Regions from separate parts of the Homo sapiens genome. Here all the other regions are linked to region 1. The links come from fine-mapping of genetic effects on gene expression. A gene starts in region 1. Each other region holds a variant in brackets. All regions are shown on one strand. Distances are between the middles of the regions.

Evidence for each region. PIP is the estimated chance that this variant, and not a neighbour inherited with it, causes the effect.
Region 2: its variant is fine-mapped to the expression of DCDC2C in tibial nerve (GTEx, PIP above 0.99).
Region 3: its variant is fine-mapped to the expression of DCDC2C in subcutaneous fat (FUSION, PIP 0.95).

The regions. Positions count from the first base shown.
Region 1 is chr2:3,700,499-3,708,681 of GRCh38, forward strand. It overlaps DCDC2C (doublecortin domain containing 2C), which reads left to right and starts at 3,077. Exons shown (of 11, transcript NM_001287444.2): 1 at 3,077-3,540; 2 at 8,051-8,102. The coding sequence starts at 3,254. ALLC (allantoicase) reads left to right here. Exons shown (of 12, transcript NM_018436.4): 11 at 1,014-1,138; 12 at 1,865-2,173. The coding sequence ends at 2,065. LOC105373393 (a long non-coding RNA gene) reads right to left here and starts at 3,002. Exons shown (of 3, transcript XR_922732.1): 1 at 2,961-3,002; 2 at 2,310-2,616; 3 at 2,062-2,141.
Region 2 is chr2:3,677,264-3,685,446 of GRCh38, forward strand. It overlaps ALLC (allantoicase), which reads left to right. Exons shown (of 12, transcript NM_018436.4): 4 at 1,205-1,292; 5 at 2,606-2,731; 6 at 4,371-4,450; 7 at 5,679-5,811. Among named protein-coding and RNA genes, the nearest start is that of DCDC2C, 22 kb to the right of the region's middle. The variant C/T (reference allele first, on the strand shown) is at 3,957.
Region 3 is chr2:3,861,922-3,870,104 of GRCh38, forward strand. No RefSeq gene overlaps it. Among named protein-coding and RNA genes, the nearest start is that of LINC01304, 110 kb to the right of the region's middle. RefSeq lists a silencer at 7,600-7,808. The variant A/G (reference allele first, on the strand shown) is at 3,534.

The DNA.
Region 1 (8,183 bases):
ATCCACTTAAGCAGACACCCAAAACTGCAACAGGTCATGAATCTACCACTGTCAAACACTCAGGATACCTCTGGTACATACAATATGATGACTGTAATGGAAATGAGGGAGCATGGCAGTATCCACTTATAGCAATAATATAGTAGGTTATATCAAATACACAAAGCTTAATATACACATACATATGTATGTATATCAGACAAATAGAAATAGCAGCTCTAATGTTCTCTACTTGCATCCTTTGTGTCCGTATGCACCCCAGGGGCATGTTCGCCCACCCTGGAGACTACCGTTTTAAGAGATGGGCCACAAAGGGGGCATGTGAGCCACAGTCTCCTCTTTTCCAGGGTTCTTGATTAGCAGCTCCTCCTCTGTTGATCCTAAAGAGCTCCAGTAGAAGTTCTCTCTTCTCAAAGAGAGTGGGACCTTTCCCTCAAGGTCCTCTAACCCCACTGAGCCCACGATTCCTATGATATTCCAAAGAGAGAAGAATCTCAGGACCATATACTCTCACCTGAAGATGACTCAGAAATCCCCAAATACACGTGTGTGGCTGGTGCCCAGCGCTAGCTAACATAAAACTCAGTATTTCCTTTTGATTGTCATGTTAAAAAATATGTCATAGGAAAATATTTTCCAGCTTCATAATAATTTCAGATGAGCCACATAGCAGTCTGCAAGTAATTAAATCTGCAATTGAGGAAGCTTATCAAATACATTCAGATTTCAAAGTGAGAACGCTATACATGCAAATTGAAATGCGCCAGCCCCTTCACATATGGCGGACTGCTTCTGAGTCCTCTGAAAAAGAAATGTCTATTTCATGAGACAATCTGAGCCTCACAAACCGGTTTGTTCCTTCCCTCACATACTTCATACCTTTGCTTTTGCTCAGGAAGAGCAGGGACTTGTTTTTTGCTGGGTTTTTGATCTTATTAAAAAAGCATGATATCCTATACGCCAAACTGAGTGCAAATGCGGGCAGAAAATCACGCTGTGTTTTGCTCCAACAGGCAATGCTCCTGACAGCTGTAAAGTGGATGGGTGCATCCTGACAACTCAGGAAGAAGAAGCCGTGATCAGGCAAAAGTGGATTCTCCCGGCCCACAAGTGGAAACCACTGCTTCCAGTGACCAAGGTTCGTGTGGCATGTTATTCGGATCCAGCACTCAGACTGTGCTATTTCCCTAAGATTCTCTTTTGAAGGATTAGGATACGCTCCAAAGTTTCTGCTCAGTTTAATGGTAAAACGAATGAGGTTTAAAACCCCTATCTGCAAACTTTAAGAAGAAAGGCTCTATTTCTCTCCACTTTTGTATTTCCAAATTTTATTAGAACAAAATTGTTAAATGTTCAGAATACATACGTGGAAACATGTCTCTGCATCATGTTTAACTTTGTAGAAGGGGCGACTAGCACATTTAAAGCTCTAATGGCGTGTCCACCTGCAGGATGGATGCTCTGAGATATTCCACAAGTGTCTTCTTTGATTTAGAAAGAGGGTCAGGCTAGAGGTGAGAGCTGCTCCCATGTAAAGATAGGAAATAATCTCCGGGAGAGACCAAGATGGTCTCTTCCTTCATTTTCTTATCAATTTGCTTATGTATAATCAACTATTAGAAACAACTGATGGGCATTTAGGTTGCCCATCAATTGTTTATTGGGGCCTGCTTATTCATGTATTATTTGGGCATCCTATCCCTACTAGCAGATTTTCATGGAAAGCCCAATTATCATCAATTAATAACTTATTTTAAAGCCCCTTCGGTTAAGTCTAAGCCAAAGGTTTGCCCGGGCCGTGGGCTCATTCGGCCACACATGTCCTGTTAACAGACTAGGACCTCTGCATCTGCTTGCTTTTCAGTTGTCTCCCAACCAAAGTCATCTGTTCGATAGCCTGACCCTAGAGCTCCAAGATGTCATCACTCACGCCAGGCTCACCATCGTCCCCGACGGGGGAGTGAGCCGCCTTCGGCTCCGGGGCTTCCCCAGCTCCATCTGCCTCCTGAGGCCCCGGGAGAAGCCCATGTTGAAGTTCTCGGTGAGCTTCAAAGCAAACCCTTAACACACACAAAGCCCCGGTGTCGGACACACAGCAGTAATTTCCCAGTCATAGTCTTCTTTTCAAATGTTTTGAACACCTGGTGATTTAATAAAGTGGTCGTCTCACAAATTGATCTCTGTATTTAATGTTGCTATGAGGCATTTAGTAGCTTACATACTGGCTATGGCTGTGACTGGTGGTCTCTACGGAACTACTTTTTTTGAACATTATAAGATATTAATACTCATAATATCAATATCTGTACCTTCGGTGTGGACTTCCAGCCGTAACATGTAGCCTACTGACTGTCTAGAATCACTCAAGGGGACTGGCCTATCTTTACCCAGAGTAGGAACGATTCTTCCAAAGACCCCCTCTCCCTTTGAATCATTCCCCAATGAGGATGCGTTCTGAATGGCACGCGCCTGACACCGCACACCAGCGGCTATAGCGCGGTTCCTCACGGCCTCCCAGTGGCTCTGCACACCTCCTCCTCTGGTGGAAAAGCTCAAATTCCCCACTCTGGGCCAGGAGTCCTGGAAGACACTGGGGCTGAACCGGTCAAATTCAACCTAAGATCAAAGAAACAGAGGCTCAAAAAATGTGAAGCAGATCCCAGCACCCATCCAATGTTGATTGTCAAGATGGTCCTGGTCCCTCCCTAACCCTCCTCTCTACCGCTTCTACAGAGGAAGGCGGCGAGTGTAGGGGGAGGAGGCACGGTGGGCGTCCCGGGGCGCTCAGCACAATCATGCTAGCCGCCTCCTCCTCCTCTTTTCCTGAGCTCTGCCGCCACGCCCCTCACCTGCCCGGGCTCCCCGTTGCCCCCTCACCTGTCTCCGCCCTGTGCCGCGCCTCACCTGCTTGGGCTCCCCATTACCCAATCACCTGTCCCTGCCCCGTGCCGCCTGCTCACCTGCCCGGGTTCCCCGTCGCCCCGTCTCCTGCCCCGGCCCCGAGCCCCTCGCCCTGGCGGCCAGGCGGTCACAATCGCCCAGGGTCGCGTCAACACGCAGCCTCCGCCCGCCTGGCAGCCCCGTCCCGTCCCCGTCCAGCCCCCGTCCCGTCCCCGTCCCGTCCCCGTCCTGCGCCAGCGGCTGGAGCGGACCTCCCGTCGGCGGTGCCCGGGCCTGGGCGCGGCTCTGCAGGCGTCGCTGCCCGCGCTGCCGCAGCCTCTCGGCCCCGGCGAGCGAGGAGCGGGGCGCGGCTATGGGAACCCGCGGGCCCTCCGCGCCGGTGGACACCACGCCCGCCAAGACCATCGTGGTGTACCGCAACGGGGACCCGTTCTACGTGGGCAAGAAGTTCGTGCTGTCGCGGCGCCGCGCGGCCACCTTCGAGGCGCTGCTGGAGCAGCTCACGGAGCAGGTGGACGTCCCGTTCGGCGTGCGCCGCCTCTTCACGCCCACGCGTGGGCACCGGGTGCTGGGGCTGGACGCGCTGCAGGCGGGCGGCAAGTACGTGGCGGCGGGCCGCGAGCGCTTCAAGGAGCTCGAGTAAGTGCGCCCGCGCCCCCCACGCGCCCTGCGCCCCTCCCCGCCCTCTTGGGTCTGAGCGTGGTCAGGGCCGTGCCCCCCAGGTGTCCTCCCCAGGCTTCCCTCCCGGCTCGGGCGCCCATCTTTCGGCGTGGATCCAGCGCAGCCGGCGTCGGGCCGCCCCAGGCCACGTGGTTTCCTGGGGGCGAAGCCGAGGCAGCCCCGCCCCCAGGGTCCCTTCCTATGGGGCAGGGCGGGCCCTGGCCGGCAGCGATTCAGGACCGCCCCAGAGACGGCCAGGAGGGCGTGGGGGAGGGGCGTGGGGCAGAAACAGGGGTGTGGAGGAGGGCGTGGGGGAGGGGTGTGGAGAGGGGCGTGGGGGGCGTGGGGGAGGGGTGTGGAGAGGGGCGTGGGGGAGGGGTGTGGAGAGGGGCATGGGGGAGGGGTGTGGAGAGGGGCGTGGGGGGCGTGGGGAGGAGTGTAGGGGAGGGGGAGGGGGGAGGGGCGTGGGGGAGGGGCATGGGGCAGAAACGGGTGTGGAGGAGGGCATGGGGGAGGGGTGTGGAGAGGGGCGTGGGGGGCGTGGGGGAGGGGTGTGGAGAGGGGCGTGGGGGAGGGGTGTGGAGAGGGGCATGGGGGAGGGGTGTGGAGAGGGGCGTGGGGGGCGTGGGGAGGAGTGTAGGGGAGGGGGAGGGGGGAGGGGCGTGGGGGGGAGGGGCGTGGGGGGCAGGGCCTGGGAATGGGGCGGGTTGGGCAGTTCCCATTTGAAATCGCTCAGGGTGACCCCTCTCACTCTGTGTCCATCACTTGGTCCTGCGTGCATTTTCAAGCTTGCCTTTAATTAAACTATTGCCCTCCCACGGTTTGTGTCTGTAATCCCATTATTGCAGCCTGTGTCTGCTTTCTGTGATCTCAGCTGCTTTTCTCTCCTGATTCTCTGTTTCCTTGTAGGTTTACTTATTTTTTGACTGTGAACTACTCCTTTTGTATAGCTTTGTGTGGGGACATTCTTCAGGGCTGAGATAAAAGTGAGATTCCCCAGAGAGAATTTCCATTTTCTTCTTTCAAATGCTCTCCGTTCAAAAATGCTCTGAATTAAATCAGCAGCTTGAGTTTTGTTTGTTGTTTTTTGAAAAAGTAGTAGGATTTAGTATGAGGGCTGGTGTATGGTTCCAAATTCTTAGTGGCATTTGCAAAGATGTGAATTTACCATTCAGTTGTTTCTGAAGAAAAGTCGTAAGTCACAGGCATCACAGTTGCTAAGAGGTAGAATCTGGATTAGCATATTTCAGATTGAAATTTATTACTATGATAATCCTGTTATGTATTAGAATTCATGGACAAAATTATATTCCTTTATAGCCATGTGATTTGTGATTATTTTTTCCAAGCTAGTCAGATGGTGTGAATATCTAGAACTGACATCCTACCCAGGATCCAGTGTTCAGTGCTGATTTACAATTAAAGAATATATCTCTACAAAAACTGCCTTTAAAGTCCCTTTCGATACATATATAATGAAAAGTATTTAATTTTATCCCAAGACATTTTCTTGTAAAATTGGCCTGTGTTTTACATGTTAGCAAATGAGGAAGGAAACGTATCAAGCACCTGCCACGAAGCCTGGAGTGTGCCTGGGAGATGTTACTCTTTCCCCTTGCTGTGGGGCTGGATATTTTCTAACCAGACCGTGTTGTACCTCCAGTTTTGTAGAGAGAGTCTCGAGTCTCATGGTTTATTTAAAATGTTTTGGACATGTAGCAAAAATATTGAGAAAAAATTGAGATGTTTTTCTTCCCAGTGCTCTTACTGTTTATTTTACTTTTTGGGAGGAAAGAAATGTCACCCACTGCAGAGGGAGGGGAGTTGGGGTCCGTGTGGCAGACAGCCTGGGTTATTTTGCATTATCTATTATCCATGCATCTTCACTGCTGTAAAATAGATGAGCCATGTCTGCATGTGAAGTTCAACATAGAGAGCACGTGGGGTTCCTTTTCTTCAGTTTTTTTTAGGTCAGTGAGTCTGAAATTGGAATTCAGACTTTGGTGAACAAAGCTCTGAAAAATGTGGCTGGATTTTCACTGGTATTAGTAAAGTAAACTAGCTCTTGGAAATTTATATTCTGTAATTGCTAAGCCATTGAGCAGTTCAATTAATTTTCACTGGAAAATAATATTCTAATTGTGTCACCAGCAAATGAACTTTGAAGTGAAGCCTGTTGATATATTAGTGATCCGGGAGCTCCCCTCATAATAGTGGTTTCAAGATGGTGCATTAAAAAGACAAACACCAACAAATCTATCCAATATCCAGCCATTACTCAGACATTTCCTGCATTTTCTGGAAGAAAATAATTTGAGACCCAAAGGACATAATTTTTTTCTTTATAAAACAAAATATTATAAGATAATAATTACTTTTCAAAACAATGACGTGTCATATAAAGCCTAGAATTAATATTTCTTTTGTGGAGAAAGCCACATTTACAACAAAATCTAAATCAGGGTGTTGTGTATGTGTGCACGCATGTGTGTGCGTGTGTGTGTGTATGTGTTTAGGGGAGGGACCCCAAAGAATTTGAATGCTTAGGAATATTACCCTGTTTACTTTAGAGCTTGTTGCTGAGACATGAATGTGAACATGCTATTTGAATCAAAGTCTCCTCGTTCTTCCTCAACCCAGCCTTTTCCTCTCATCTCCCTGGCCACCCATTTGTACCTGGGAACTAGCCGCAGATGACAGGAGAAAGAGGAAAAGTGGGTGGAGAGGAAGTTGTGATAGATGACAGGAATGTTGGCCTCAGAGCCAGAGACTGGTGGAATTTAATCCTGGCTTTGTCTACCTGAGTAACGTTCAGCAAGTGAAATAACCTCTCCAAGACTTGGTTTCCTCATCCATAAAGCAGGCTGGCTTCACATCCACTCTGCGGTACGGTTGGGAGAATGGAATGAATGCAGTAGGGTAAGGTGCCTGGCACGGATTCTCATGGGTGGTTTCTTCCCTTCCTTTGTTCTCTGGAAGTAGCCGGGAGGGAGCTTGCACCTCATGGTCCCATCACTGCTTCACAGACCTACTCCCCGCCCACCTCAGAGCAAGCCAAGCCCACCCAGCAGGCTTCTCTATGTGCCTGAGTTAAAGACCTCAGGTCATGGGCTGTCTGAGGAACTATTTGTCCTTTCTTTCTGTTTTTATAAGTTCTTGGGAGTGCAACATTGAAATAATAAATAGTATTTTGTGTTTTTGTAGGATCTTTTTATGCTTTTTTTCTGTGTTAAATTTTATTTTTTGGTTCCATGTAATGAAAATCAGATGTCTCATTTGGGAGATTAATGTTCATAAACAAATATGGAATTTGGGAATTTAGAACAAATTTAAAATATTTATTTGGAAAACAGGAAGACTAGACTAAGCTAGTGAAGAGTGCATACAAGGGCCTCTAAGCAAGTGGAGAGGCTCAGGCTGAACTCAGCCAGCAGCCATGTTTTGTTCAGTTCATACAATTTTCAAAGATTTGAGTTGGCTGCAACATTTTATAATTGGGAGAACTCATGTAATAATATGAACTTTTGGTCTCCCTTGGAAAAAATAGAGGATTTGATTGTTCAGAGGACTTGGTTGTAGCTGCGTGCATCTCCGCTATCTGGACCTGTGAGGCCCTGTCCGCCTCAGAAGGGAAAGGATGGTCCCACCAGCCACAGCCCCCACCAGTCCCTGAGACCACCCTTGGCGAGTGCCATCATTTACTTGACCAGTTTCTGTGGGGATCTGCATCCGTGACTCTTTATTGAACACTTAGTTATTTCTTCCCCTTCTATTTACCAGTCTAAGTTGACCCTTCTCTGAATATTGCTGAAACTATCAAAAACAATAACAATCTCAAATACATATTTTTTTAATCAGGAAGAAACCTTAGTATCAGATATAAATTTGAAGGTATTATTTATTACCCATGAAAACATTTTATTTTTGAGGAATATGGAAGTCTCAAAAGTCCCCAACAGTAAAAAAAATTGTGTTAGTAGGGCTCAGACACATTTTATGCTGGTGACTCTTTTCCAGTTTGCAGTTTTGGCAAAAGGAGAACAGTGCTGAATTTCTGTGAGCAGGAGGGAGCGGTGGGGGTGCAGAGGAGCTGGAGGAGAGTCTGGGTTTTTGTTCCGACCTTAGCCTGTCATGGGAACATTGATGAGCTCGCAGTTCTGGGCCTTCAGCGACCTGGTTAAAGAATGCTGTTGAATTAGATGATTTCTCAGGTTTCTCTTTAATAAAATTACGTGAGGGAAAGCAATGTCACTTAAGAGACACTTTCAAGGGGCAGTGCCAGTGGTACCCAGTGTGAAAACTGTCCTACAGCAGCATTGCTATTGTATTCTGATGTGGATTCTAACACCGAGAAAATTTTAGATCCTAGTTCCAAATTGCTGTGGGGTTGTATCTATTAAGCCGGAAAAGGACTCGTTTCTAAGGAGTCTGGAACTTTCTATGTAAATATCTTCCTTCTAATGATGTTTTCTTCTTTCTTCTTTTGCAGTTATATTCATATAGTTCCCCGAAAACCTGCAAAGATAAGGAAGTTGAAGGAAGTAAGTGTTTGCTTCTAACAACTAATAATGGAATAAATTGGCCAACTTGGTAAAAATTTAAATGTCGGCACGGAATAATTG
Region 2 (8,183 bases), 23 kb before region 1:
ACAATCAACCTACCCCCAAAACTAAACACCAAAAAGTTTGGGGCCTTGGAGGTCTGGGGTTTAAGTGGGAGGTGTACCTCCTTCTCTCCTTCTGGGTTCAGAGCAGAGTTTTGCAATTCCTGATGAGTAATGGAAAGGCTGGAGTGTGTGCTGTCTTTAAGATGTGATTTGATTGTAATAACATTCAAAATACCATCAACTTTCATGTATAATGCTAAATACTGGGCACTTACTATGTGCCAGGCACATTTAAGGTTGACAACAGCCAGAGGCGGTCAATAGCACGATGGCTGTTTGCCTTTGACAGAGGAGGAGCACTGAGGCACAGGAAGGTGGGTACCGTTGGCCACGGGTCCCCTGCCTGGGAGGCTGGGCAGGTTGTCACACCAGGGAGTCTGGCGGGATCCCTGGTTGGCGTCTCATGCATCAGCTTCCATCAGAGCATCCCTGCCGCCCTGGGTCCTGCTACCCCTAGTCCCTTCCTCTGCTCCTGCCTGGGGAGATTCCCTAAGCAGTAACGTAAGATCCTCCTTGCACGACTTGATGGAAACAGGGAAAGTATCCCCATGCTGGGCCAGCATAACGATTTCTGAGCATCCACGCTATTTGAGGGTCTTTCATGTCGGCTATTCCAACTTCATGACACTCCTGCGAGGATGCGTGTATCCTCCTCATTCTGGAAGATGAAGAAGTGTGCTCAGCTGTCTAAGGAGGCTGTGTGGGGCATCAGAGACCATGCATTTCCTCAGGGGGTTGCAGAGTGTGCTGTGTGGTTTCACCTGGACCCTGAGCGTCCAGCCTACTCTTCCTATGACTTTGGATGAATTCCTGATTGAATAGTCTACCTGGCCTGCTTGGAAATCTGACCAGCCTCTCTCACTTTAATACCCATGTAGGTTGCTGTTGGGAATTGCATTTGTGCGGCCCACAGAGTGCCTGGTGATGTGGTTGTACCTGCTGCTATCAGTGGTCAATTCTGTGTGCTGAGGCCCACAAAGAAGTCACATTTCTTTCTCTGAAGATGATAAAAGCGGAGGCATCTCTCAATCTGGAAGGGGCTAGCTGGGCATGAAGGTGGTGGCAGAGGCTCCCCTAGACCCCGGTTTGCACCGTTCCTCTGGCACTGTGGGACAGAAGTGGACTTGCTGGAAGCCAGGAGATCACATGAATGTTAATGATCACCTTGTTGTGGTCTTTGCCCTAGAGTGACAGCCCGTGCTTCAAAGAGCATGAATATACGGAGTTTGGGAAATGGATGGATGGCTGGGAGACCAGGAGGAAAAGGATTCCAGGTAATAACAACGGTTCGTTCATCGAAGTGCAGCTGACACTGCAAAGTTAAAAACGCAGGCTGTGGCAAAGCCAGTGTCCGTTTTGGGTCAGCTTTAACATGGGGCCCTGGAATGCTCTGTAATCTTGGATGTCCTTATCTGAACATCAGGCTCTAAGTCAGGAAGGGGCAGCGTGAGCCCGGGTCACTGACGTCCCACCAGGCACAAAGGGTGAGAAGCACGTTGTCGGGAAAATGAAAACCCTGGTGAGGTCTGCGGATGGAAAAAAGAGTGGATTCTCACTGAGCAATGTGGCAGGCATTAGGCAGCGTGCATCTTCTGGGTCCTTACTACAGTCCTCTGGAGTAGGTCTCTTTATCCCCGTTTAACCGCCATGGAAACAGATTCCTGGACTCAGCCCAGGGCACACTGCTAGCAAGATAAGCTGGGGACTGGGCCAGGGTCTGTCCTCAACACTGTACCCGCTGTCTTTTACGATTTTATGCAATTTTTATTCATTGCTATTACTCAGTCTCAATCAAAATATACCTTCTGAAGTTGAAGAAAAGCAAACAAATCCAGGCATTAGGTTGATAATTGGATTTTTACTTGCCACTATCTCAAGTATTACAGAAATATTTGATATTTCTAGTTTTCTAACTTTCTACAGTACTTGAAGCAGTATTAGTTTCTAACAAATCTGGACATTTTAAGGTGAGTTAATATCTGGCAGTAAATAACCAAGAACTCAATAGTGGCAGACTTGACTTCAAGACTCTGAAGGCTTTGGTAGATGCAGGCAGGTGTCTGACCAGTGGTGGGGCTGGAGGCTGGAGGGTGCTGTGTCAGTTCCTGAGCTTGAGAGGACAATGAACACAGTGTCTGCAGGAGAACCAGCTCTGCTTACTACCTGCTGAGCTTGGTGAGGTGCTTTCTACATCGCACACTCAGTCTAAGCTTTATGGAAGCTAACGGCATCCCTAATTTACAGTTGAGAAAATGAGATTCTCTACTGTAAGAGGTAAATAATTTGCCAAGGACAGTCATAGGAAATGATCCATTTGGAACCAGAATCAGGTCTTCCTGGATCCCAGCCTGTGCATTTTCTCTTCTGGCTAGAACTGAGGATTTTCGTTGGGGAATGGTGGTCACATGTGGCCAGGTTATGAGAGATCCTACAGTCATATTAGCTAAGAACCGCCCTGAACAGTTTTTTCTGTGATGGACGGAATGGCCCCTGCTGTGGGTCAGGTGCATGTGGGGTGCACTGCCTCGCATGCAGCATCTGCTGTGTTGGCCCTAACGAGACTGCTCTTGTCCTCTGTGTTGCGCAGGTCACGACTGGTGTGTCCTCAGGCTGGGGATCCAAGGAGTCATCCGGGGCTTCGACGTGGACGTTTCTTACTTCACGGGAGATTACGCTCCTCGAGTGTCCATTCAAGCAGCAAACTTGGAAGAAGGTGCGTTAGGAACCACTGTCCCCAAAATGAGAATTATGGGTCACATGGCTCCTCTGGCCAGCCACAGCCCCACAACTGCTCACTTTCCCTACCACCCAGACAGCTTCAGGCGCTTGACTAAGGCTACTTTACTGTAACGGGGCTGTAGGACCAGGACTCCTAGTAGAGCGCTCTGTGGTTTTTGATTTGTGGCTTAATAGTGTTAACAGCCAGATATAGATTTTATCATTCCCACGGTCCTTCAGCTTCACGCAGAGGCAGGCCATCATCCCTGGAACGTGGGTGAGCAGGTTGCTGGTGGGCGGGAGGGAGTGGTTTGTGCCTCAGATGACCCGGGTGATGTGGACCCAGGTCTGGGACAGCTGTGGGGTGAGCAGCACCAGCCCTGCTTTGGGCTGTCCCAGTGTGTGTGATGGGGGAGCTGCTATGGCATTTTAGGCAAGGGTTCCTATCTGCATCTTGGAATGCTGGACCTATGAATCCTGCAGGCTCTATAAATGAGACGTATTCTGTGAAAGGGCCATATACACAGAGCAGACCTCAGGTGCTGAAGAAGCCAAGAAACCAAAGAAAGAGGCTGACAAATCCAGTCTGTTGGTAACGGGTATTTTATTGGGGGAACTTACGGACAGAAGCGTGGCCTTGGGCAGCAGCGAGATGGGTAAATCTCTGCACTGTTACTGCCCGGACTCAGGGCTCACATGCTGTAGGGAAAGGGTCTGCGTGCTCCAGCGGGACAACTGAAGGCAGCCTCCAGAACAGGGAAGAGGGCGGTGTGCGTCACAGCCTCTGATTTGTGCGATAATATCAAGGTTGACATGTTCTGGACTAAGGACAGTAAATCAAGTTGGAAGCAGGACGTGTTCACAGGATTGAGGCTAATCAGACATTGACATGGCAGATTCGCATCCAAGATGGAGTCACTTTGTCTCCACAGACTTTCTGTATTTTTATTCCTTTGTTACCATCTGATGTTGACTTTAGCATTAATTAAAAAAAATATACAATTATGTGTGTGTTTATACATGTACTTAGGGAAGATAAGTCAATGTGGGTTGGCAAGTTTACACTGAACATGCTATGTGCACAGCGCTGCATGAGGCTCTGTGGACACGAACGGGCCCTGCTCCCTGAAGATGGCTGGGGCACCTGAACAGGAAATGATGCTACAAGAGATGCTACTCTAAAAGCGGAAATGACCAGTGACAAACGAGTAAGATTGTTT[C/T]GGCAAGCCCCTCAACTGCCCATGAGTGCTTCTATTTCTGAATTGCCCCAGTATCAATTCTAAGGATGCCACTGGGAGAGGTGGTGTTTCTGGAATTGACCTTGTAATAGTCCAACTTTGAAAACTCTAGCGATGTGATAAACTTGTTGAAGTTTGAGCTAACTTGGAGATGACATTTACTGTTTGACAAGCAAATGTAGTATCAAACATCTTGTACTATTTTTTGAAATGACTGTTAATATATTAAATATTGAGGAACTTCAACAAGTGTGTCTATTACTTTGATCATTTGATACTTCGAAATATCTTTAGTGTTATTTGCAAAGCGAGAATTACCATACAAACCACCAAGAGAGTAGATTCCCTTTGATTTTGAACCCTAATCTTAATCCTGAATGGTCATTCCAACTACAGATAAACTACCAGAAATCCCAGAAAGAGGAACCAGGACAGGAGCTGCAGCCACTCCTGAGGAGTTTGAAGCCATTGCTGAGGTACATCTCCCCCAAATGAATTGGGTCTTGTCACCAATTATTAGGAGAGTAGGGAAACTGCTCTGCACACCTGGCTGTGCAAGGCGATTCTTTGGGACGCCCAGCCCTGATGCTCCCCACATCATTTGCTTACCCACTGTGGCCTTGCAAACGTCTCAGTGGTTCATCAACCTGGGAAGAGTGAGCATCATGGCCCAAAGGCTTCTCAAAGGGTTCCACCAGCACCCATCTGCAAATGGCTGCTGGCCCCGATAAGCACACATACAGAAACTGATAGTAAGCGTTTAAACACTTTTTATACCAACTTGATGTAACTTGAAGTAACGTTTGTGTTTGGAGAATTTAATAAAAGAAACGGGGGAAAAAAATAAATAGGGCTTGTGTTTTGGTACATTCTTGTTTTTTTAATGTTTATTTAGTAATAGTTTGTATTGTTTTTTACAGAAATGTTGATCCATAACAGACAGGAAAGTAAATAACAGGAACAGTAAACAGGGCCGTTAGTTTGAGAAGTGCTAACCTAGAGAAAATGGTTGCAAGGCTCAGGCCAGCAGATTTCCCCAGAGGTCATGGAGCATGGCAGTAGCCTTGGTTTTTATTTGAATGTTCACCTCACCACACCTCAAGGTGAAGACATTTGGAGGGGTCTGAGATCTTGTCCTTCATTTGCAAGCATCTGCCACCATCACCCACTGGCTGTTTTGATCAGTGAAAACAAAACAGGCCTTTATTCTGTTTTTTATTAAACATGGGGCTTGATATGTACTATTTTTATTAAAGTGTTTCATTAGGTATCCATCATTATTTATTTATTTGTTTGTTTATTTTTTGGGACGGAGTCTCGCTCTGTGGCCCAGGCTGGAGTGCAGGGGCGCGATCTCGGCTCACTGCAAGCTCCGCCTCCCAGGTTCACGCCATTCTCCTGCCTCAGCCTCCCGAGTAGCTGGGACTACAGGCGCCCGCCACCACGCCCGGCTAATTTTTTGTATTTCTAGTACAGACGGGGTTTCACCGTGTTAGCCAGGATGGTCTCGATCTCCTGACCTTGTGATCCGCCCGCCTCGGCCTCCCAAGGTGCTGGGATTACAGGCGTGAGCCACCGTGCCCGGCATCCATCATTAATTTTTATTCCAAAGTATCTCCACACCTTAAGTGCCACAGAGGCAATAGGATGACAGAATTTATTGTTTTCAAGAGCAATTGCTGACATTTCTATATTTATTGCTAGCTAAAATCCGACGACTGGAGTTACTTGGTTCCCATGACTGAGCTTAAGCCAGGAAACCCTGCTTCCGGCCACAACTATTTTCTTGTCAATTCCCAGCAGAGATGGACTCATATCAGACTCAACATTTTCCCAGGTAATCGTGACATGGACTTATCACCAGTTCCATGGCTTCTTTATTTTATGTTGACATGTTTATAAAATATAAAATGACTTGCTCTTTCCTTCTTGGTAATTGATCTCTCTAGCATTTCAGGATTGTAATTTCTCCTTTTTATGCTCTAGAAAATTCTTGTTTTAATCCACACATCAATAGGTGGTTATTGAAAAATTATCAAGTAAATTAGGATGTGGTGGAACTAAGTTGTATTAGGTTAGATAGATCCTAACTAGATTTCACAAGTATGTTATATTAGCAGCTGAAGTGGTATGTACAAATGACTCATTTTATTTTTTAATAGCTTTATTGTGATATAATTAACATGCAGTTCACCCATTTGAAGTGTACAATCAATGATGTATAGCATATGCATAGACACGTGCAACCATCACCATACCTTTAGAACATTTTTATCATCTCAGAAAGAAACCCCATATCCTTTAGCTATCATCCCTCATCTTCCCTATCCCAAAGCAACCACTAATTTGCTTTTTGTCTTGATAGTTTTGACTATTTTGGACATTTCATATAAGTAGGAATTATATAATATTGGTCTTTTGTGTCTGACTTTTTCCACTTAGTATAATGTTTTCAAGATTCATCCATGTTGTAACATGTATTAACACTTTCTTTCTTTTTGTGTAAGGCTAATATAGGTTGAGCATCTCAAATCTGAAAGCCCCAAAATTTGAAATGTTCCAAAATCCAAAACTTTTTGAGTGCTGACATGATGCTCAAAGGAAATGCTCACTGGAATATTTCAGATTTTGGATTTGGGACACTCTACCAGTAAGTATAATGCAAATATTTAAAAAAACTGAAATCCAAACACTTCTGGTCTCAAGCATTTCAGATAAGGGATACTCAACCACTACCACATTTTGTTTACCCGTTCATTAGTTGACAGACACTTGTTTCCATCTGCTGGCTATTTTGAACAATGCTGCTGTAAACATTTGTGTACAAGATTTTGTGTGGATATATGCTTTCTTTTGTTGAGTGTATGCCTAAGACTGGACTTTCTGGGTCATATGATAACTCTGTGTTTAACTGTTTGAAGAATTACTAGGCTTTTCCGAAAGTGCTGCACTATTTTACATTCTTAACAGCCACGTAAAGGAGTGCTGATTTCTCCCTGCCTTTCCCAGCACTCTCTGTCTTACTTTTTGTTTATAGTCATCCTAGTGGATGTGAGGTGGTGTCTCATTGTGGTTTTGATGTGCATTTCCCTGATGACTAATGAGGAGGAACATCTTTTCATATGTTTATTGGCCATTTGTATGTTTTATTTGGAAAAATTTCTCTTCAGATCTCTATTCACTTGTCTTAAATTTCAACAGGTTTTTGGGGGAACAGGTGGTGTTTGGTTACATGGATAAGTTCTTTAGTGGTGATTTCTGAGATTTTGGTGCACCCATCACCAGAGCAGTGTACACTGTATCCAATGTGTAGCCTGTTATCCCTCACCCCCCACCCTTCCCCACATTGTATCATTCTTATGTCTTTGCATCCTAATAGCTTAGCTCCCACTTATAACTGAGAACATATGATGTTTGCTTTTCCATTCCTGAACTACTTCATTTAGAATAATGGTCTCCAACTCCATCCAGGTTGCTGTGAATGCCATTATTTCATTCCTTTTTATGGCTGCATAGTATTCCATGGTATATGTATATATACCATATTTTCTTTTTTAAAATATTTTCAATTATGGGCACATAGTAGGTATATATATATTTATGGGGTACATGAAATGTTTTAACACAGGCATGCAATGAATAATAATCACATCATGGAGAATGAGGTATCCATCCCCAATCCATTGTGTATATATACCACTTTTAAAATCTATTCCTCTGTTAATGGGCACTTACTTTGATTTCATATTTTGGCTGTGACATTGTAAACAGTGTCACAGTAAACTTGGAAGTGCAGATATCTCTTCAATATATTGATTTACTTTCTTTTGGATATATACACAGTAGTGAGATTGCTGGATGAATCTATTGTTGTTCTATTTTTAGTTTTTTGAGGAGTTTTCATAGTTTTCCATAGTGAGTGTACTAATTTACATTCTCACCAATAGTGTACATGGGCTTCACTTTCTCCACATCCTCGCTAGCATCCACTATTCCCCCGTCTTTTTAAATAAAAGCGGTATTACTCTGCTCTCACGTTGCTATAAAGATACTACCTGAGACTGGGTAACTTACAAACAAAAGAGGTTTAATTAACTCACAGTTCTACATGACTGGGGAGGCCTCAGGAAACTTACAATCATGGCAGAAAGAGAAGGCGAAGCAAGGCATGTCTTACATGGCAGCAGGATCGAGAGAGAGAGAGAGAGA
Region 3 (8,183 bases), 160 kb after region 1:
CATATATAAATATATATACACATATACACACACATACATATGAATATAAATGTATATATAAACATACGTATATATATATAGGTTGCATATATATAGGTTTATATATATGCATGTCTCTCTCTCTCTCTCTCTCTCTCTCTATATATATATATATATATACACACACACACACACACACACACATAAGAGAGTGGAAAAAATTTGGTTCTTGTAGCATTGTGGTGGATACCAGTTGTCGTATTAGGGTTTTTCAGAGAAATAAAACATATATATAAATATATATACAAACACACATATACACATGTATATATGAATATAAGTGTATATATATAAACATACGTATATATAGGTTGCATATATATAGGTTTATATATGCAACCTATATAGGTTTATATAGGAATATATATAGATACAGTACTTGGCATGTATCTCTCTCTCTCTCTCTATATATATATATAGATGTGTATATATATATGTGTGTGTATATCTATAGATATGTATAGATATAGATATCTATATATGAGCTTTATTAGGGGGATTGGCTCACAGGATTACAGAGGCTGAGAAGTCCCACGATAGGCCTTCTGCCAGCTGGAGAACCAGGGAAGCTGGTAGTGTCGCTCAGTCCAGGTCTGAAGGCCTTGGAACCAGGAGAATCTATGGTGTAATCTCAGTCCAAGGTTGAAGACCTGAGGAGGCCACTGGTGTCAGTTCCTGAGTTCAAATGCTGAAGAGCGTGGAGTTCTGATGTCCAAGGGCAGGAGAAGAAGAGTGTCTCAGCTCCAAAAGTGAGAGAAGTGAGCACATTCTCTTTCCTCTGCCTTTTTGTTCTATGTGGGCCTCAGTTGACTGCATGGTGCCCTCCCATACTGGGTGAAGGGGATCTTCCTCACCTAGTCCATTCAGACTCATGCACTAATATCCACTGGACACACCTTCACAGACACATCCAGAAATAATGCTTTGCTGCAGGGGTCCTCATCCCTTCGGCCACAGAGTGGTACTGGTCCCTGGCCAGGTAGGAACTGGGAACTGGTCCATGGCCAGTTAGGCACAGTAGCAGGTGAGCAGCAGGCAAGTGGGCATTCCCCTCTGAGCTCTGCTGCCTGTCACATCGGCAGCAGCATTCGATTCTCATAGGAGCACGAATCCTGTTGTGAACTGCGCATGTGAGGGGTCTGGGTTGCATGCTCCTTATGAGAATTTAACGAATGCCTGACCATCTGAGTTGGAACAGTTTAATCCCGAAACTAACCCCCCAGTTGGTCCATGGAAAAATTATCTTCCACACACTGGTGCCTTGTGCCAAAAATGTTGGGGACCACGGCTTTACCAGCTATCTGGGTATCCCTTAATCCAGTCAAGTTGACACCTAAACTTAACCATGACAGTTGTCAATTCGGTTCAGTGAATTTGCTTTCATAGTGAATGTAAGTTCCTTACAGTACTTGGCATGTATCAGTGCCTCAAAAAAAATGTCAGGTTATAATCTAAGAAAATAATCTGCTTGGGCAAGTAAGACATTATTCATGGGTAGCATAACTACAGAGCAACCTACCTCTGAGGGGTACAGAGAACACGTGCCACAGGATTGAGAGAAGTCTCCCATATGCATGGGCAGTTGGGAAGGTGTCATCAAGGAGGCAGCCTTGGTCTGAGAGTTGAAATGGGTGGAGTGGGCGGGAATAGCCATTGCAGATGAGCGTGGCTGTGCAATGCCTGGGCAGGAGGCCCTGGGGAAGACCAGTCTACTAGAGTAGAAAATTTGGGTAGAGAATGTCAAGAAGTAAGGAAGGAAAAGTAGGTTCTGGAGAAACTGGACATTGTTGCTTGTCAGTCTGAGGAATTTGAACTAGAGACAATGGGGATATATAGAAACCTTCTGAGTTTGGGATTTCTATGATCAAAAACCGTCTTTAAGGAAGAACAATCTGATGACAGTGTGCAGATTTTATCCATGTTCATCCAGAAAACAGCCTCTGCTGCAATTTATGACAGGCCTGCCATCAGCATTGCAGGGCCTGGGATAGGGGTGCAGTTGGAGACTCACAAGCTATATATTTTTTAACATTTAAAAGTTATAAACCAACCTGTTAATGACTACAACAAAAATTCTTAACATTTGTCCATAATCAGTATTTGTTCATAAAAACCAAATAAAAATATATGTAAAAGTATATGTTTTATGACTGAAGTTGGAAATATGAAATCATTCAAATTGTGGATTTGATTAGAATAATTTTCTTGCTCATATTTACTCTTTTGATCAATAGCTAAATTTTCACAAAATAAACTTGTAATGCCCTGTTCTCAAATTTTGTGTGGGTCATGCTTGACAAAAGTCTGTTCATATTTACTATTTTCAGTTTTAAATAATCTAAACAGGCTGCTCTCTGCATATTTTCTGTTACTATTTCCATTTTTTCTTTAAGCTGCATTTTTATAATTTCTATTTCTAGCAAAATACCAACTTTCATGCATTCTTCAGATGTGAAGCCCTTTGCAGGGAAAGCTTGCCAACCCATCCCTAATCTAAAGGATTAGAAAGGAAAATGTAGTTACATTCATAATAGGACATTTGAACATTTCACCAATAAAATATAAATTTAGATAAATTAAGTTTAAAAAATTAAGGTTATTTTTCATATTTTTCAATAGTACTATTTTTCTTTTAAAATAATTAAAGTTATTAAAATTAAAAGGCAAAATTTAATTAATGAGTATTCAAAAATCAAAATTATTCCAATAAAGTAAAATTTAAAATTTAATTTTTACAAAATTTAATTAAATACCTTTATAAAAATGAATGCATTTCCTAATGCTAGTGTTTAATGTGTATCTAGTTTTGGTTATAAAAGATCATTATCACACTTGATGAATGCTACACCTAGAATCCGTGTTATAATTCCCTCATGGTGAATTTAGACCTACATAGACAGATTGAAGCGTCATATGAATTGCTTATATTACAGAATATTACAGAATTGCCCTCAGCCCCCATGCACAGCCGTTGCTAATGCAATGCTAATTAATAACCTGAACAAGCCTCAGCAGGAGCTCAGCTTCAGGCTCTCCAAGGGAGTGTGTGGCAGGTGAGCGGCCTGAACCCCGTGCAGCTCGGGTCCTGGCTCCAGTCTCTGACGTGGCAGGTGCAGAGCTCGCACCTTCAGGGCACTCAGGTGCGCTGCCTTTGTTTGGAGGATAAACAGTAGAGGTGTGGGTCCTGCTTCCCTGGGCCTACACAGCAGAGCAGCCTCCAATGCTCTGCTGACCCCTGGGACTCAGGCTCTCTGTGCGCTGGGATACGGTTATTTTCCTGGTGCTTGTTCTCTGCAGGGCCGGCCCTGACCCCCATCTCTCGCAAGAATGTGAGTTAACTCTAATTTTAAATGACCTTTTCATCTCCATCTGGCTTAGCACCACAAATTGCTATTCTGAGTTTTAATCTGTGCCGTTTGGCCACGGCTGGCATGGATTGTCGAAGGGAGGAGGAGGCACTGCCCTCTGGTTGGCTGGCTAACATCTCTTGAGAA[A/G]TTTCTCAGAAAGGGCTTGCTGTATAGACCTTCACCAGGACTGAATAACAAGAGAGGGTCAGTCCTCCTGTTCCAGTTCAGCCTTTTTCGCCTTAGTGAGGTAATTGCAGGCAGCTCTAGAGAGACAGGGCAAGAATATTTGGTTTCCAGAGAAAATAACAGAACAGCTCCCAGTGATTCCCTAAATGGAATTTGGAATTATGACTCTCCCTGGCTCATTGAAGCATTGCTAGCTCTGATTCAGGGCTGCTCTGGCAAGCTGCATGTAATATTTCAATGAATGCTACATTGCATTGCAGTGAGCAAAATGCCAGAAAGGTTTCCTTTGCGAGGGTAAACCAGCCTTTTGTCTTCGTTGCTTATATTCTAGAACCTCACCACAAAATAAAAATAGTTAATCATTCTGGATGTTTAGAAATGTTAGATCAGAAAGACCAAGATAGAAGTCTAATTTAATGTAAGCCTAGGCTGAGCTGCTCTGTGTACATGTCCACTTGTATGAATGGAAAAGATTTTGAAACAATTCACATTCTGACAAAACGCCAATCGTGGTATGAAGCATGTCATTTTTGTCTGTTTGTCTCTTCCTCTCGCCTCTCTTTTACCCTTCAGTTGTTGCCTGCATTTCTAACGTTCAGTGAGGCACTGTACTGAGCTGCTCGTGTCTTATGAAATGAACTGAGTTTTTGTGCTAACAGAGGCTACATTAGTCCCGCTAGAGACATAATTGAATATGCAGAGGTTTTGCTTGTGTTTATGATTTGCATGAGGTCAGAGTGCCATGGGCACCTGAAACTAACAGATCATCCAATGACATCAGTTCTGGCCTTTGGACAGCCCCTTGTCCCCCAATTCAAGTAGGACAGAGGCCTTGGGTTGGTCTTTCTGAAGTCCTTGAGTGTCATTGTTCATGGCTGTACCTGTGGGGAGAAGATGAGTTTGGGGCCTCAGCAAGGGGAAGGCTGTGGACACTCCACTCTTGATCTAGCTGTAGTGCAGCAGGGTGGGAAGGAGTGACCTGGAGTCAGAGGACGTGGTTTCAGGTCCGGCTCTATGCCTGGCTGCATGAACTTCATCAACCAGCTTAGAGTCTCCGAGCCTCAGTTTACTCATCTGAAAAAGAGGCTGTCTTTTCCCTAAGATTCTTCAACAGATTAGTAAGTCTACCTTAGCTAAAGGCCTTGTTGTACTAAACAACCCTCGATATATATGCTAGATATGAAACCGCCTTTGCAAAATTATGACAGCAAGAGAAATCTGACATGGTTGACTCCATCTTGCTTCTGACCTCTAAGCTGTCCTTGGTCATTCCTGGGTGTAGGCCAAACTAACTTTGGGAGGAATTTAGTTTCTAGTTTAACCTTAAAGCAAGGATAATAATAGCCCTTCCCAAATCTAAATCACCTTTGTAAAACCAATAAAAGGCCATAAGGTAAGGATTATGAGAGGGGCCTGAACTCTGCTAAGATGTAGGCATAGTTTCCATAATCCCTTACTGCTCAGGGGTCATGTGGCCAGAGGTCACAAGAATTGTGACTTTCCCAGTTGCTCTTATAGATGACATTACTATCATAGAACCTAAGATTGGTGTTTGGAGCTTTCAGGCTGATTCCCCCTAAACTTGTGATTTATGACTCAGCTGATCCTGTAGCCCCATCCAGAGGTGGAATGAGCGCATGGGGGTGTGGACTGTTCTTCACACCCTGATGATTTCATCCCCAATCATTCGGCAGCACCCATCCCTTAGCCCCCTGCCCACCAAATTGTCCATAAAAATTCCAAGCTCTGAGCCTTCAGGGAGACTGATTTGAGTGTTAACTCAGTTCTCCCACGTGGGCCAGCCTCCTGTCAATTCAATTCTTTCTCTACTGCAATGGTGCAGTCCCAGTGAATTGCTTTTGTCTATGCAGTGGGCAGGAAGAACCCATTGGGAGATTAGAGACCAAGGTGGGATCTAGGGAGCCTTGCTTTTTCCTTAGAAGAAGACATTGCACAGGGATGAACAATGCGTCCTCAGCGCAAGAGGCAGTGCTCAGTCCTATTCTGGCATCATGAGGGCTCTGGCTCTGTTTCCAGAGGGCTCAGGAGGGTACCCACATGCCAGTGAGACCCTAGCCCCAGCCAGTGTCTACGTTCTTGACACTGTCATGAGAAAGAATTCAGGGGCGAGTCAGAATGAGGCCAAAGGCAAGAAGCTTTTATTGCAAAGTGAAGCACACACTTGAGAGTGAAGTGCAGGCTGGCTAGGGAGAGTGAGTCGTGCACTAGAGAGATTGGGTTTCTAGTTTTATGGGATCTTTTAATGAGGGAGTGGAATAATCATGAGGTCTTCTAGGAAAAAGGTGGAGATTTCTTAGAATTCAGGTGCCACTCATTTCCATACTAAATATGGCCATGCTCCGATCTCTCTTGGTGCCGGAGGGTGTGTGATTTAGGATGTTAATGAGCATATAATTAGGTTGGGGTAGGGCATGGGTCAAACCAAATGCCATGTTGGACTCAGCCCATTTCAGCCGCTTAGCCCCTTCCTGTTTGTTAGGGCCCCATCAGCCCAGGCTCACCCTTGTCCTGGTAGCTGATTTAACAGCTCTCATTTCTTGCTGCTGTGAAAGATCGCTGCTTGATATCTTCCTGTGTCGCCTATGACCACCCAACATTCCTGTCTCACACCTGTTCTCTCAAAGGATGGCTGGGCAAGGGACCAGGAGTGTTGGGCACGCAGCGTTCATCCTGGGACAGGGGCTTGACCTGGATCCCGCTGAGGTCCCAGCTGGAAAGTGCTGGCCTGGCCCATCCCTGTTCTCTGCCATGCAGCTGTGCCAGACGGCCGTTTAGGGCCAAAAACAGAATTGCAGAAACTCTGTGAGTGTTGAGGAAATAAGACGGATTCCTACAGTGTGATTTGAAAAAATCCTTTTGAATTCTAGCATGGTGTTAAAAGGAAAACCCAGCCATGAATGATTTGTGAATCTGGCAGCCCTCGAAACCAGGATAGGTTCAGAGGGTCTCCGGCCTGCCTCATGATGGAAGATTTATGGACAGAAAAAGGACAGTGAGGTGAAAAAGGAAGTGAGGTCAGAAACAGCTGGATTGGTTACAGCTCAGGGTTTGTCTTATTGGAACACGGTTTGAACAGTCAGCTGCCTAGGATTTGCCAAAACTCGGTGATGGGCACAAGAGTAGGTCACAGTCTGCTTACACATCCAGCTAGGTGACAGTTCACCCAGTACAGAAAGTCCCTTTGGCTGAGTTTAAAATATGTAAAGTGGTAGCTTTAGGATCAACCTAACAGTGGCTACATGTAGAAAATGAAAGTCATGGCTCCAAACGCACGACAGCCTGCTTTCCCCTTCAGTGTGTGTTGATGGACTGGGAGTGCCCGGATACCAGGGCTCACCGTGCCTGTCCCAGTCAGGGAATGTGACTTCACTTTGGCCCCTCCTGTGCACAAACCCCCACCCTGTGTTCAGGTTTACCAGGACCCCTGAATTCTGAAAGGTGGATCCTACTTAGGAGAGGACAGCTTGGCACCAAGTGCTTTGGACTCTGGGGCAGACATTTCTCTCAGATCTGACGCTTGGCCCCTACCCACCTGCCTCTGTCCTCCAGGTAACCTTTTCTGCAGGCCTCGTCCTAGGGTGGCAGAGCCAGGCCTGTGGGGTGGGGGCTCTGCTGCATGGCCTGACCTGATCAGCCATTTCTTGGAGCCTGTTCTGTGTTGGTGCTGGGGAGAGAGCAGCAGGAATGCAAACCTGCTCAGATGTATTTTTCCTTTGAGATCACATCTGCTGTATTTGCTGTGAGCAAAGTTCATAAAAGGAAGGTGATGAAAAAGCGATATGGAATAAACATTCTTTTTTCTATAGGGTATTTCAGAAAAGAAGGCCATTAACATTTGAAGGTGGCTCAATTTACACATTTTTAATATGTAAAACACCTAGTGACTAAAGTGAGATATACTTATTTAAAAGTGTAAGTACTTTCAAAACATTTTACATATTAAGATAGCAAGACTAGGCCAGGTGTGGTGGCTCATACCTGTAATCCCAGCACTTTGGGAGGCCAAGGCAGGCAGATCCCCTGTGGTTGGGAGTTCAAGAACAGCCTGACTAATATGGAGAAACCCTGTCTCTACTAAAAAAAAATACAAAATTAGAAGGGCGTGGTGGCACATGCCTGTAATCCCAGCTACTTGGGAGGCCGAGGCAGGAGAATCGCTTGAACCTGGGAGGCAGAGGTTGCAGTGAGCTGAGATTGCACCATTGCACTCCAGCCTGGGCAACAAGAGTGAAAAAAAAAAATAGCAAGACTCAAACATAAACTTTAAAAATCTGAATTTTATAAAATCAGTAATTTGGCTTCACAATCTCAACTATTGAAGTTCTTCTATGTTTAATATTGTGGCTACTTAGCTGAGTAACTGAATATTGAGGAATGGCCCATTATCTCAAACTTGTGAGTTAAAAAATGCCAGAATATCACCCAAAATTGTAACCATATTACTGAGAGTTGGATTTGAATGAGTAGATGCTGTTCCAGGTTTGAAAGTAGTTATAAGAATGAGAACATGAATTCAGTACCCTGTGGGGATTGTGGGTCTGGAGGGTGTTTGGTGGGGCTGTCCTGGAGAATGATGATGCCGTTGTCTGG